Homo sapiens: one gene and its partner. The protein of the gene in region 2 purifies or fractionates together with the protein of the main gene of each other region. This does not show direct contact. Each region holds a gene or a part of one and is shown on either strand. Other genes may lie near its edges.

The links. Proteins that work in one complex are often made in the same cells at the same time.
Region 1: the proteins of NEU2 (region 2) and ALKBH3 purify together in Homo sapiens (affinity purification with mass spectrometry; 3 studies listed by BioGRID and IntAct, with this or other methods). This does not show direct contact.

The regions. Positions count from the first base shown.
Region 1 is NC_000011.10:43,911,815-43,918,843, forward strand, and holds part of ALKBH3 (alpha-ketoglutarate-dependent dioxygenase alkB homolog 3), read left to right. Parts: intron 1-448; exon of another isoform or gene 449-670; intron 671-4,854; exon of another isoform or gene 4,855-5,107; intron 5,108-7,029. UniProt on the Homo sapiens protein: Dioxygenase that mediates demethylation of DNA and RNA containing 1-methyladenosine (m1A). Repairs alkylated DNA containing 1-methyladenosine (m1A) and 3-methylcytosine (m3C) by oxidative demethylation. Has a strong preference for single-stranded DNA.
Region 2 is NC_000002.12:233,028,217-233,035,561, forward strand, and holds NEU2 (sialidase-2), read left to right. Parts: upstream 1-4,455; coding exon 4,456-4,656; intron 4,657-5,899; coding exon 5,900-6,841; downstream 6,842-7,345. UniProt on the Homo sapiens protein: Exo-alpha-sialidase that catalyzes the hydrolytic cleavage of the terminal sialic acid (N-acetylneuraminic acid, Neu5Ac) of a glycan moiety in the catabolism of glycolipids, glycoproteins and oligosacharides.

The sequences.
Region 1 (7,029 bases), on a different chromosome or scaffold from region 2:
CAGAGAAAGAGAATAAAAAAGGGAGCGGCCAGGCGCCGTGGCTCATGCCTGTAATCCCAGCACTTTGGGAGGCTGAGGTGGGCGGATCACAAGGTCGGGAGTTCGAGACCAGCCTGACCAACATGGTGAAACCCCGTCTCTACTAAAAATACAAAAAAAATAGGCAGGCGTGGTGGTGCGCGCCTGTAATGCCAGCTACTTAGGAGGCTGAGGCAGAAGAATCGCTTGAACCTGGGAGGCAGAGGTTGCAGTGAGTCGAGATCGCACCACTGCACTCCAGCCTGGGCCACAGAGTGAGACTCCTTCTCAAAACAAACAAACAAACAAAAAACAAGAAGGGAGCATAGAGCCTCAAAGGTTGAGCTCACTGCTTTCATCACTTTGTTTTCCACCTGAAAAATCTTAATTTGCTTCTGTTGGAACAAAGGATAAAATAGAAACTCCTTACCCAGATTGCCAAATCCATACATGATCTTAGCCCAGGGAGATCCATGGACTCTCACTGTTCCCGTATGGTTGCTCCATTCTACTAAGTTATCTCTTTGCTTTCCCCGAGGCTTGCTCTCCAACTTCTTAACTTAAAAGGGCCCCCTATAGCGTGAAGGCTTTCCTGATGCCTCCAGTGCAGAAATTAATAATAGTTACTGTGTGCCAGGTGCTTCCTGTGAACCTGTAAAACAAGAAACAGGTAGCAGGCTTCTACCTTGTCCTTTCTGCTCATTTGTGTTTTGTTTTTATAAGTGTCTTCTTAGTACAGAGATGGAGGTTTTTCTATTTTGCTCATCTAAGGAATCAGAGATGATGTGGAAAACCAACTGCCTCACTGTTATCTGAGATCAGTAATTTGGAAGCATATTTTGCTTTGAATGACTTTTTCTGATTGAGTTAGGGGTGAGATGAAGAATGTGATAATTTTTTAAAATCATGGCATTTATTTTTTAAAATCTTAATATATTAAACAATACAGTTTCAGATACAAAAAAAATTACTGCAATAAAACAGTTGAGGTGTATTTCCATTGTGCTTCCCTTCCTTATCAGGAAAGTACATTGTCCACTGAGAGACAGGATGGATGGCCTCTCCCAGCTCTACACAAAGCACAAGCCTACTGGCTCTCCTGGGCCTTGGTTAATACATGGAACAGGCTATGTTTTCTAAAATGTTGTAGCAACACTCATAAGTCAACCATGGTTCAAAAAGTCAACCATGGTTCAAATCACATATTTACATATTGATCAATTCTTTATGATAGACAGACATAAATGAGATACAGTAAATAATTTCCAGTTGTTAAAAAAAAAAAAAAAACAAGTACAGGCGACAAACTTGGTCATGGTACACAAATATACTTCATGTGTACAGACAGCTTCATTCAGGTCTAATTTTTTTTTAATTTTTGTTTTAGGTTAGGTATATTTGCAGGTTTGTTATATAGGTAACTTGTCTGTCACGGGGGTTTGGTATACAGATTATTTCATCACCCGGCTAATAAGCATAGTACCCGATAGGTAGTTTTTCCGTCCTCACCCCCGTCCCGTCCTCCACCCTCCATTATTCAGGTATAATTTTAATTTGAAAGACCTAGATATACTATTATTTAAGTGATAATGGCCTCTAAGATTTATTCAGATTACTATCAAATAATAAATTAAACAAATCCACTATAATTTAAAACTCTGTCCATTGCTTGAAACCTTGGAGGAGCCTATGCTACAATCAGTTGCTAACTAAAAGCAATTGTACGTGTATTTGATATTTCCCCACAGTTTCTACCTCTAGATTTAATTCAGTAAAGGAAGATGATATTTGAAGATGAAGTAGCACTTGTGTCCTGAGCATCTCTCAGGCACTACTGCATGGAATGGCAAAGGGGATGCAAGAAGCACATCAGATGACAACGGTCTTAGACGCTTACAAGTCTGCTAAGGTGACTGACAAGGGAATCAAAGAAGGCAGTCATGTCATGGACCTATCAGCAGCATAGCTGGGCAACCCTGGAGCTGAATCTGGCCCTCAGACTTGTTTAAATTGCCCAGTGTTTTTAAAGACACTGAATTAATTGCGAAAATTTATAACTCAGGAAATTTCACATAAAAATCCCACTTGTCAGCTTCCCTGGAAAACCCAGAAGAGGGGGCAGCACTGGGGGAACAGTGATCTGAAATGGCTCATTGGCAGAGCAGCCACCACCTTTCTGCAGGCCCCTGGTTCTGCATGGGTCCCTCTCCTCCCTGTGCTGCACCCAGCCCACACCTCTCACTTATGCTACTTGCTGGTGTTTGTGACCCCTACAGTATAGTCAGGGTGCCATATAATCAGGACAGGAAATATTAGGATTTCAGAAGGAATAGAGCTTACCTTGGAGAGCAGAGTATAGTGGAAAGAATAGGGCTTTAGAGCCGGGCCAATCTACATTCAAATGCTAGCCTGCCCTCCTGCTAGCTTTTGCCTTAGAGAAATATTTTCCCTCCAGCTCCCTTTGCTTATGATAAAATGGATAATATCACCTTCCTTGCCTCCCTTACAAGGTTGTAGTGAGGATTAGCAATAACGGATATAGAGTGCCTGATGTGCCTGGCACCTGAGCACATGCCATCGTAGATCTTGTGGAAGAAGTCTGGCAGGATGCTTTGGTTTAAGTACCTGGAAACTGTTATAAAAAGAAGCATGGAAAAAAAAGAATAACCCAACCACCACCAAAAAACAAACTCCATGTAGATTAAAGAGTTAAATCTAAAAAATGTAAACTCTTAAAAAAAAAACTAAAAGGAAATACAGTTGTATATTTAACTTTCCTCAGGATGGGAAAAGACTTTCTAAGCATAAAAATCATGAAGACGAGCCAAAGAAAGGTCAGTAGAGTTGACTCTAAAATTTTTGAGCTATTCCATGTTAAATACCATAAGTACAGTTAAAAGGCAAATAGCAAATGAGAAAAGCATTTGCAAAAAGTATGACAAACAAATGCCTTAATATCTGTGGTTGTAGATCAATAAGAAAACAGTGTTAACACCCCCATAGAACAATGGACAAAGGACATGAACAGAGAGTGTTCACAGCAGAAGAAACACAAACAGCAAACAGAATGAAAAAAAAAAAGTTGAACTTGGGCTGGGTGTGGTGGCTCACACCTGTAATCCCAGCACTTTGGGAGGCCAAGGCAGGTGGATCACTTGAGCCCAGGAGTTCAAGACCAGCCTGGCCAACATGGTGAAACCCTATCTCTACTAAAAATAAAAAAAAATTAGCCAGGCATGGTGGCAGGCACCTGTAATCCCAGCTACTCGGGAGGCTGAGGCACAAGAATCGCTTGAACCCAGGAGGTGGAGGTTGCAGTGAGCCGAGATCACACCACTGCACTCCAGCCTGGGTGACAGAGTGAGACTCTGTCTCAAAAAAAGAAAAAAAAAAAAAAAAGAACTTGGCTTGTAATCCAAGATCTCTAAGTTTGAATGAGTTGTCATTTCTCCCCTAATTGTTTTTCGTTACTGTCAGTTGATAATGTTCAGCCAGAAGATAGGTACTGTCATGTTTTCCTGGTGAGATTATAGATTGCTGCAGCCTTCTCAAGAAAGCAGTTTGGTAATATAAATCAAGTGCCTTAAAGTTCATACACTTGGCTCCAGTAATTCCATTTTTTAAGAATATATCCTAGAAATATATGCAGAAATGTTTTGCCCAAAAATCTGCTTGCAGCAGCTTTTTATTTATTTTCCCTCTTTTTAAAAAAAAATACTGGTGTATGAAAATCAATCTCCAACCATGTGCTCCTTACTGCTCCATCCTTAGTACTAGCATAATGCCTGATATATACAGGTGGTCAAAAGGTATTTGTGAGTTTAAAGGAAGGATATGTTCATACAAAGGAATATTCTATAACCATATTTTTGAAATGTATATTTAAAGATATAGAAAAATGCTCAATAAAATATTAAAAATGGAGTACACACGATTGTATATCTGGAAGACTCTGTGTGTATGTTGTATAAACTCTGGATGATAGGATTACAGGCGATTTTCTACATTTTCTGTGTACTCTTCCTCAGTCATTCAGTACATATTTATTCATATGTGTGATAGGCACTGAGAATGTTTCTTAACAGGAAGACCACATAAACTTTCCCTCATGGAGTTTATAAGAGCAGAGGTTGAATAAATAATTACAAGTGCATCATTTACTTTAGTAAACTTATGTTACTTTTTATATTCTAGAAGGAAAACCTGTATGATGATTTTAAAGCATTGATGATTGTTTGTAATTTCTAAGACATTCTTTTAGGACAAGAAAGGGATGATTTTAAGAAAACTCCAAATCTCATACAGTATGAATTACCTTTCCAATGGAAAGAAAAATGTTTAGGTTTCCCATCTGTTGGATGGTTAATAATGACATAACAGTAAATACATCCAGATTTTTTCACCCCAAATAGCATTTTCTTAAAGGAAACTGAATAGGATATGTTGGTGAGGTGGAGGTAAGAGTTGTGAGAAGCTTTAGAAAAGCATAATTAAGCCTTCAAATGAACTGGCTGCGGTTGGAGGAATGAGAATGTTGATCAGCATTAATATAAAAATACATGTTTTTCGCTTTTTCCATGTACTCGTAGGGTTTCAAGTATTTGGAAAACCAAGAACATCAATAACAAAACCCACCCTGTAGCTTGAGTGTGACCCTAAAAGCTGCTTTTAACCAGGATGAGTGATGGAAAATTTTATCCTTAGCCCTGGTTTTGGGGGGTGTGTTTTGTTTTGTTTTGAAGAAAACCCTGAGTAAATCAAAAGGGCTACAGAGATGTGTTTGGGTAACTTAACCACGCTTAATGACTAGGAAGGCACTCTTCTAAACAGTCTGACCTGTGTTTCCACTGTTGCTTATCCATTTATCAACTGGAGCCTTTATGCACAGCCATGTGGGTTCCTCTGGCCTTTTATCTGACTCCTAAGTGGAAACAGTCTCCATGCATCTTGCTTCAGTTGAAGGGCATCTTGCTTCAGTTGAAGGGTGGCTCTATGGTCTGTTGCCACTCTGGCCTCGAGGGAAGGATGCATTTGTGAGCTCTGTGTTGCATTAGTAGGATCCCTTGCCCTCTTTCCTGTCTGTCTCCTTCTGCAAATTAGGAATGCATCTTCTAAGTCAAAGATCTTAGAAGGAATAAATAACAAGCAGCAAAGAATGATATCACTTCTCACAGAGGGTACACTGTGTAAGGGTGTCTCCTTTGTGGACTGATTCGAGTGGCTCCCTCCCAAACGAAGGCTCACCCTTGTCTGCTTTTTGGTATGGCTAATGGTTATGTTGAATGTAATGTGTTCAAAACCAACCTGAGACTTTCTCTCATTTGAAAAGTTCAGATCTTAGGAACAGTATGTGAAATGTGATCATTGAACATCACTTTCCATCAGTGCTGATACATTTCGGAATTCTCTTTCACTTGTGAGGTGGATTCCTGCTTCATGTTTCCAGGTGGAACTATAGTGTTTACCTATTCTCTTCCACTGATCTAGCACCTCCTTCTCCCCAACAGTGTTTTTAATGTTCTAGGAGATCTTCATCTCAGAATTGCCTTCATGTTGTGGTTAAGTGTCTTTCCTTTCTACTTTATTTTATTCTCCTTAGTGTCTGTACTTGATTTGTAGATTAAGCCCATGTTGCACTCTCTGATTATGTAGAGGGTAGCAGAAATTCTTCTGCTTCTAGCTGTGTTGAACCTTGATCTGATAGCTGACTATACAGCCTAAATTAAGGAGCCTTGGACTGTCTAATCTCATGGTCAGTGCACTCCCTCCGGATATCTTTTCCCCAGTAGGACCATGTGTCTCCTCTGTCTGGATTTTTTTTTTAAATCAGAGCAGCGTTTTGCTTTTCTGAGATGGAGCTGGGCTGCAGTGAGGGCAGGGTCACCTTCCCACTGCCCTCTGGTTGTCTGAGGGGTCAAAGGTAAATGTTTTGGTGCCCACTTATTACTGGAAGAGAAAAGGTGGCAGACACAATTAAAATCAATCACTGAAACCAAAGTTATTTTAAACATTGCTTCTATCTTCTGTCTATAAAAATTATGACTATGCTTGACAAAGTTACTGCCAAAAGTTGGGGCCTGGAACTTAGACTGTTTATGCAAGTTCATGATTGTTTTGATTTTGATTTTCCTAGGGAAAATCTTTGTAAACAGTTAAGTTCTCAGAAGCACCCATACAGTAATAAACATAAACACAGTTTGCACTGAAATCAATCCTGCAGTAACCCAAATGTAACCCTTTCTACCGGAAGTGAAGCAGATGAATGAATAGACCCATCAGTTCTGCCCAGAATGGAGGTGAAGAAATCAGGAAGCTCAGATCTGTCCCAGTCTCAGCACTTGACATGCTCTTTGTTGCTGTGAGCACAGAAGTTGTTTAATGCTCCTGGTTTTCAGCTGTGGAGGAGCCACACTACCAGTTAATTGCTTTGCAGCTTATGCTCTGAAGACTCCTGAGAATATTGGACATAAATTGCTTTTGAGCTCTCTGTGTAAATACAAAGCATTTGTATCCTAAGTGTACAGGAGTCGTGATCCATCCTCAAAGATGTAAACAGCCAATCTCAGTTTGACAGCACTGTTTTGGTCAAGCCAGAGCTCCCTTTGAGAAAATCTTGCTGTTGTCTGTTCTGGAAAGAGGCAGGAATATGTCTCCAAAACTCCATAGTAGCCATGAGAAGAATTGAGACTATAGGTGCCAATTAGTAAATTAGCATACATTGTGAAAAGGTGAAGGAAGTCATCGCATCAAATCTTGGTTAAAAGGACATTTTTCCCACACTGAGTATGTCAAAATGTAGAGCACAACATCAGTCAGATGTAAAGAATTCTTGTACAGGTGACTTTTATTTCCTTCTTAGGCCAGAATGGGCTTTTCTGCATTTTGGATTATGATGATGACACTAATAGCTAGCACTTACTGCATGCCAATCTTCAAGGGATTTACACATATTCTATCAATGGAGGCTCACCATAGCCCTAGGTGGCAGTCACTGTCATCCTCCCCATTTTA
Region 2 (7,345 bases):
CCAGAGAGACAGGACATAGATGAGTGGTTGCCAGGCGCTGAGGGGACTGGGTAATGGAGTGTAAATCAGAAGTAAAATGCTAAGCCCCCTCAGCCAACTGAGTGGACCCTTCCTCAGCTAAGGGCATTCCCAAGTTAACCTGAAAAACTAGTTCAGACCATGATGGGGAGTGGGGGTCAGAGGTCAGACGTGTCTCCCACCTTCCTCCTTTTGGAATTCAGATACAGCTGACCAGCATTAACATTAAAACAAATCTTTTTTTTTTTTTTTGAGGCGGAGTCTCGCTCTATCACCCAGGCTGGAGTGCTCACTGCAACCTCCGCCTCCCAGGTTCAAGCAATTCTCCTGCCTCAGCCTCCCAAGTAGCTGGGATTACAGGCATGTGCCACCATGCCTGAGTAATTTTTGTATTTTTAGTAGAGACAGGGATTCTTTCATGTTGTCCAGTCTGGTCTTGAACTCCTGACCTCAGATGATCCACCTGCCTCGGCCTCCCAAAGTGTTGGGATTACAGGCGTGAGCCACCGCACCTGACTAAAACAGATCTTAAGGCTGATGAAACAGACTTTTTGTAGCAATAAGACACCAAATTCCAAACTAACTCTAGTATAGCATCAGGACAGATAGCAGGTCCTGAATGAAATTAAAGTATTTTACCCCCAAATGTATTTCTTTGACTTATTTTGAAATGGCCCTGCAAAGCTGTCTCTTGTGAGGAAACATCTGCATTCTGTAGAGAATCCCCTTCCCTTTCCAGGCCTTTTCCTGATCCAGGAGAGAATTAACTAAGACTCTGGCATCTTTTTAGGTCTGCGAAGAGCTCTGAAGCCTGCCACCTGGCGGCCTCTGCGTGATGAGACCTTGGTCTCCACAACAGCTCATCTTTTTTTTTTGAGACGGAGTCTCCCTCGGTCGCCCAGGCTGGAGTGCAGTGGCGCAATCTCGGCTCACTGCAAGCTCCGCCTCCCGGGTTCATGCCATTCTCCTGCCTCAGCCTCCCGAGTAGCTGGGACTACAGGCGCCCACCACCACACCCACCTAATTTTTGTATTTTTAGTAGAGACGGGGTTTCACCGTTTTAGCCAGGATGGTCTCGATCTCCTGACCTCGTGATCCGCCTATCTCAGCCTCCCATAGTGCTGGGATTACAGGCATGAGCCACTGCGCCCAGCTAACCGCTCATCTTAACCCGACATTCCTTTCTACTGATTCCAGGTCTTTAGATAAACTCTTTTGACCAACTGCCAATCAGAAAATTTTTGGAATCTACCTATGATCTGGAAACTGCCTTCCCTACTCCCACCTCAAGTTGTCCCGCCTTTCCAGACGGAACCAATGTACATCCTACATGTATTGATTTATGTCTTAAGTCTCCCTAAAATGTATAAAACCAAGCTGTACTCTGACCACGTTGGGCACATAGGATCTCCTGGGGCTGTGTCACGAGCCATTTGTTACTCATACTTGGCTATAAATCTCTTTTATAGCCAAATATATAAATAGTATAGTATAGTATAGTATAAATCTCTTCAAATATTTTACAGAGTTTGACTGTTTTCATTGACAGGGGAGTGATTGCTCACAGGTATGGGATTTCTTTTGGGGTGGTGAAAATATTCTGGAATTGGATAGTGGTGATGGCTGTATAACTTTATGAAAATACTAAAAAAACCACTGAATCATACACTTCTCAAACTCCTGAGCTTAGGTGATCCACCCGCCTCGGCCTCCCAAAGTGCTGGGATTCCAGGCGTGAGCCGCTGCACCCAGCCTGAATCATACACTTCTAAAAGGTACATTTTATAATATGTGAATTATATCTCTATTTTATTTTATTTTTTGTTTCGAGACAGGGTCTCACTCTGTTGCCCAGGCTGGAGTGCAGTTGTGCTATCTCAGCTGACTGCAACCTTCACCTCTCAGGCTCAAGCAATCCTTCCACCTCAGCCTCCCGAGTAGCTGGAACTACAGACATGTGTCACCATGACTGGCTAATGTTTGTATTTTTTGTAGAGATGGGGTTTTGCCATGTTGCCCAGGCTGGTCTGGAACTTCTGGACTCTAGCAATCCACCTGCCTCTGCCTCTCCCACTGCTGGGATTACAGGCGTGAGCCACTGTGCCTGGTCACATATCTCAATTGTAAGCATTGAGAGTGGTTCTCTTCTTGAGGGTGGGCCAGCCAGTGGCTTTGCTCCCTAGTTCTAGCCTGAAGCCTCTGTTCTCTCCCTTGCCCCATCTTCTCTCTAAGGCATGAGCCACCAGTTCTGGTCACACTCACCTCATGGAGCCCATCAGCCCGGTTTCCTAGGCCTTAGGCTGGACCCCTACTCAACCCCAAAGGCCTGGTGTGTGTCTTGCCTTGTGATTCCTCCCGAAGACGTCTCTGTCTTGTTTTCCCTCTAGAATGTCTTTATAGATGTCCTCAGCTGGCCGGGCGTGGTGGCTCATGCCTGTAATCCCAGCACTTTGGGAGGCTGAGGCGGGAGGATCACCTGAGGTCAGGAGTTCGAGACCTGCCTGACTAACATGGAAAAACCCCGTCTCTACTAAAAATACAAAAGTAGCTGGGCATGGTGGTGCATGCCTGTAATCGGGAGCTTGAGGCAGGAGAAGCACTTGAACCTGGGAGGCGGAGGTTGCAGTGAGCCGAGATCTCGCCATTGCACTCCAGCCTGGGCAACAAGAGCGAAACTCCATCTAAAAAAAAAGAAAAAAAAAAAAAGATTTCCTCAGCTAAACTTCTTCTCTCCTTTCCTCCCACATTGTGTAGAGAAGGCCAGCCATTGTAATCCATACAGAAATTTTGGCCCTGAGGACATTTTAAATACAAACATTTTAAACTGAATTATACCAACTCTGCTGAATTTCCATCAAGGACACTTTCCAGAGCCCACTCTATGGAGCTTAAATAAATCCTTGATCAATTTTCCAGAGAACACTGTGAAACTGCACAGTTCTCCATTTTCATTTTTACTTGTTATCATATTTGATTCTTTCCTGCTGACATTTTCTAACAGCGTTTCAGCATAGGCCTCCCGATACCTATCAAGGCCTGTGTCCTTGGATTATAATTTGGTGATTCTATCACCAAGCCATGAATCTCCCACCGAAGTTCAGGGAATAGCACATTTTTTCCTTGTGCAGCTTTTGCCCTTCTCAGTTTTATTTTCTCACATCGTCCTAATATTAACGTTCACTGTGGTTGAATGAAAGACTGATAGATTACATTTATTTCTCAAAGAAGCTAAGTTTTAAATAGATAACGCATGCATGTGGTAGAAAAATGAGAGCAGTACAAAAGGGTGCACAAAGGCAAACCTTGCCCCTCTTGCTGGCCTCTTGCCCACTTGCCCTCTGCAAAGGCTGTGTCTCAGACGGGGTGCCCAGGACGCCGGCTCTGACACGGAGACCCACGGCAGGCAAGAGCCTCTGGGGGAAAGGGAGGAGCAGCAGAGAAAGAGGCGGCTGTAATGCAGTCTCAGGGAAGGCCCAGCCGCCCGGAGGGAGCTCCGGAGCCGCACTGTTCCTGGTCAGGAGTTCAGGAAGAGGGTCTTCAGGCTCTGAGTGGACCAATCATCAAGCAGCCCTTCTTGGGTATGACCTGGGGCAGATTCTTCATCTGGGAACAACTGGCCCATCCTCCCCAGGCCAGGGCCCTGCAGCCAACACTCCCCAGAGCTGCGGGATGCATCCTCCTAAAGGGACCTAGGCAGCTTAGCCCGAAAATCACTGTCACCCACTGTCCCCAAGTTACCTCTGTCCCCTCCCTACCCTTTTTAGCTGAAGACTTATTTTTAATTGTTATTTTCTTAGACCTCTGGAGCACCCCACGCCCCCAGCCTGGGTTAGCTGTCAGGAGCCCCTGTCTCTTCCTTTCCCACTGCAGCGCCGCCCCCTCGCTGCCTCAGGGGGAGCCCACGCAGCAGCGGGGGCAGACGGGCCTCAGCCTCAGGCAGCCTGGGGAGCAGAGCCTTAGAAGCCATGCTTTTTCTTTTTCCTTTTCTTTGAAACAACTTTCTAGGGCTCTGGAGTTATAAAAAGCTCCCATGTGTCACTTTCTGGCATTTGGGCAGCTGCCGAATGCCACCCGGCCTGCACTGCTGTCCTCCCGAGGTTTGCCCCTGGATTGATGGGCTGGGTTTGGCAAAAGCAGCTGGAGGTTATCGAAAATCTGTTGTAAGGAGCATTGTTAACTTAGAATAAAAATCGAATCCAAAACACGCTTTTGCAATACCCCCTCCCGATATCCACCGAGGCAAAGGCAGAATTAAGAAGCAGGGTCTTGAGATGTAGGAAAGGAGAATGAACCCCACGCGGGAAGAGGACAGGCCGCCCTGACTTTGGTCCACTCAGCCAGGGGGTGAGCACCACCTGTCTTGGTGAATGACTCTGAGCCCATCTCAGGTGTGGCTGCAGGTGACACATCTTCTCTTCCTGTCCACCCCCCAGCCCCATGGCGTCCCTTCCTGTCCTGCAGAAGGAGAGCGTGTTCCAGTCGGGAGCCCATGCCTACAGAATCCCTGCCCTGCTCTACCTGCCTGGGCAGCAGTCCCTGCTGGCCTTCGCGGAACAGCGGGCAAGCAAGAAGGATGAGCACGCAGAGCTGATTGTCCTGCGCAGAGGAGACTACGACGCACCCACCCACCAGGTTCAGGTGAGGCAGGAGGTGTCTGCACTGGCTCCCCAGGGCTCTGCCACACCCTTTGCTGCTGTGATCAGGGGCCAGTCCTGGATCTCAAGAAATACAGGGACAACTTTATCCCTCAATGGCTGTACTCCGGAGGAGAGATAGAGCAGAGAAAGTGCCCCTAATGGTTCCCTGGACCTCTGGGTTCACTGTGAATTAGTCCAGCTGGCCTCCATCTGTTTTCATGAAAGATTGAATGAGTTGCCCAGCATCCGTGATGACCTCACGGAGGAATAGTTCAGTGTTGCATAATGGAGGGTTGTGTCCTTTGAGTAAAATTAACTTGGGGACTTGGGGTGGGGTGATGGCTTGTGTCCTAAAGTCCCATTTTATAGATTAAATAATTAATCCTGATGACAGCACCCAAGGCTGGCTGATCATATTTGAAGAGTTTAATATTATTATCATTCCTTTGTGGTCATTACTACACAGCTGTTCAAAGCATGGGATTTGAAGCAGATGGACCTGGGTTCAAGTCCTGGTTCCGCCACTGACCACAGATGTGGCCTAGGCAACTCCTCCTCCCTGTCGCGGTCTCTTGCTCACTGTAATAATGGAGCTACTAACACCTGTTCCCTGGGGATTGAGGCATTAGATGAGACCATGGATGTTAGACTTTTGGTGCTGTGTCTGTGCTTAGAATTGCCCAATGGGGGTAGCTGTTAATAAATGGGGACAGACAGCACATGTGACATAGACTTGGGGATTCTGGAAGCTCAATGTGACTCCTCCTTGGCTACATGAGTAGGATATGGAGTGTAGAAGGTGAGAGGTGACCGTCACATTCTGTCTTGTACTGGTCAGGTTATTGCACCTTCCGCCAGGGCTTTGCTATTCAAGGATGGTGAGCTGGACTGGGGTGGGAAGTGGAGGAACCAGGATGAAGTTGGGAATGGCTCATGCACGAGTCATCTTCATATCTTGTGGTCTGGCAGGTGGGTGTTCTGTAAATGCATATTGATGGCAATGGAAGGAACAGAATCACTCAGCCGAGTGTGGCTGCCTTGGAGGGGTGAGGTGGCACCCTGGGCCCCGCAGCTCTGGGGAAACGTTGCAAGGAGGATATGAGTGTTGGGTGAAGAGTTCTTCTCGATGACTTTTGACTCTAACCCGGGAGACACACCCGTGCCCACCCCTCCCACTCATGCAGCTCCTGGCACCATCCCCAGCTGTTTCAAGGCTGCCTTCTTCTTTCTCTCTCCCTACTCAGTGGCAAGCTCAGGAGGTGGTGGCCCAGGCCCGGCTGGATGGCCACCGGTCCATGAACCCATGCCCCTTGTATGACGCGCAGACGGGGACCCTCTTCCTCTTCTTCATTGCCATCCCTGGGCAAGTCACGGAGCAACAGCAGCTGCAGACCAGGGCCAATGTGACGCGGCTGTGCCAAGTCACCAGCACTGACCACGGGAGGACCTGGAGCTCCCCCAGAGACCTCACTGATGCGGCCATCGGCCCAGCCTACCGGGAGTGGTCCACCTTTGCAGTGGGCCCGGGGCATTGTTTGCAGCTTCACGACAGGGCCCGGAGCCTGGTGGTGCCCGCCTACGCCTACCGGAAACTTCACCCCATCCAAAGGCCGATCCCCTCTGCCTTCTGCTTCCTCAGCCATGACCATGGGCGCACGTGGGCGCGAGGGCACTTTGTGGCCCAGGACACCCTGGAGTGCCAGGTGGCCGAAGTCGAGACTGGGGAGCAGAGGGTGGTGACCCTCAACGCGAGAAGCCACCTCCGAGCCAGGGTCCAGGCCCAGAGCACCAATGACGGGCTTGATTTCCAGGAGTCTCAGCTGGTGAAGAAGCTGGTGGAGCCGCCGCCCCAGGGCTGCCAGGGGAGCGTCATCAGCTTCCCCAGCCCCCGCTCGGGGCCTGGCTCCCCAGCCCAGTGGCTGCTCTACACTCACCCCACACACTCCTGGCAGAGGGCCGACCTGGGTGCCTACCTCAACCCGCGACCTCCAGCCCCTGAGGCCTGGTCAGAGCCGGTACTGCTGGCCAAGGGCAGCTGTGCCTACTCAGACCTCCAGAGCATGGGCACCGGCCCTGATGGGTCCCCCTTGTTTGGGTGTCTGTACGAAGCCAATGATTACGAGGAGATTGTCTTTCTCATGTTCACCCTGAAGCAAGCCTTCCCAGCTGAGTACCTGCCTCAGTGAGCCTGTGGTGCCCACCTCAAGGGCCTGCCTTTCACCTGCACACCCAGCTCGGAGGCTCTGCGGCTGCCTCTCCTTCCCGTGGCCCCTGGACGTGGGGGCCACTCTGGGCTCCCTTCGGCGCCCGTGTGTGGAGAGAGGTGCACCTCTTGCTCTTTTCCTCCTGCGTGGTTCCAGTCTTCCCAAAAGGTTCTATTTTCAGCCCAGAAACCAAAAGTGTCTGGCTTCCCATAGCCCCTCCATAGGGAAGGCGTGGAGGGTCCTGCAGCGCAGCTGTCACCTTGTCTGCCTGTCCCCTACCCCCAGCTTTGTGTAGGTCTTGACAAATTTCTAGTTCAACTCCTTCCTTCTTGGGAACCATTCCTTATGTTCCTGGGGAAGAACTGAGATGGAAGACCATGGTGTAAATTAGCAGAGATGTGTGTGTATCTGTGTGTGTCTGCATGTGCACGTGTGTTCGTGTGTGTCTATATGTGTCTCTGTGTGCATGTGTGTTCGTGTGTGTCC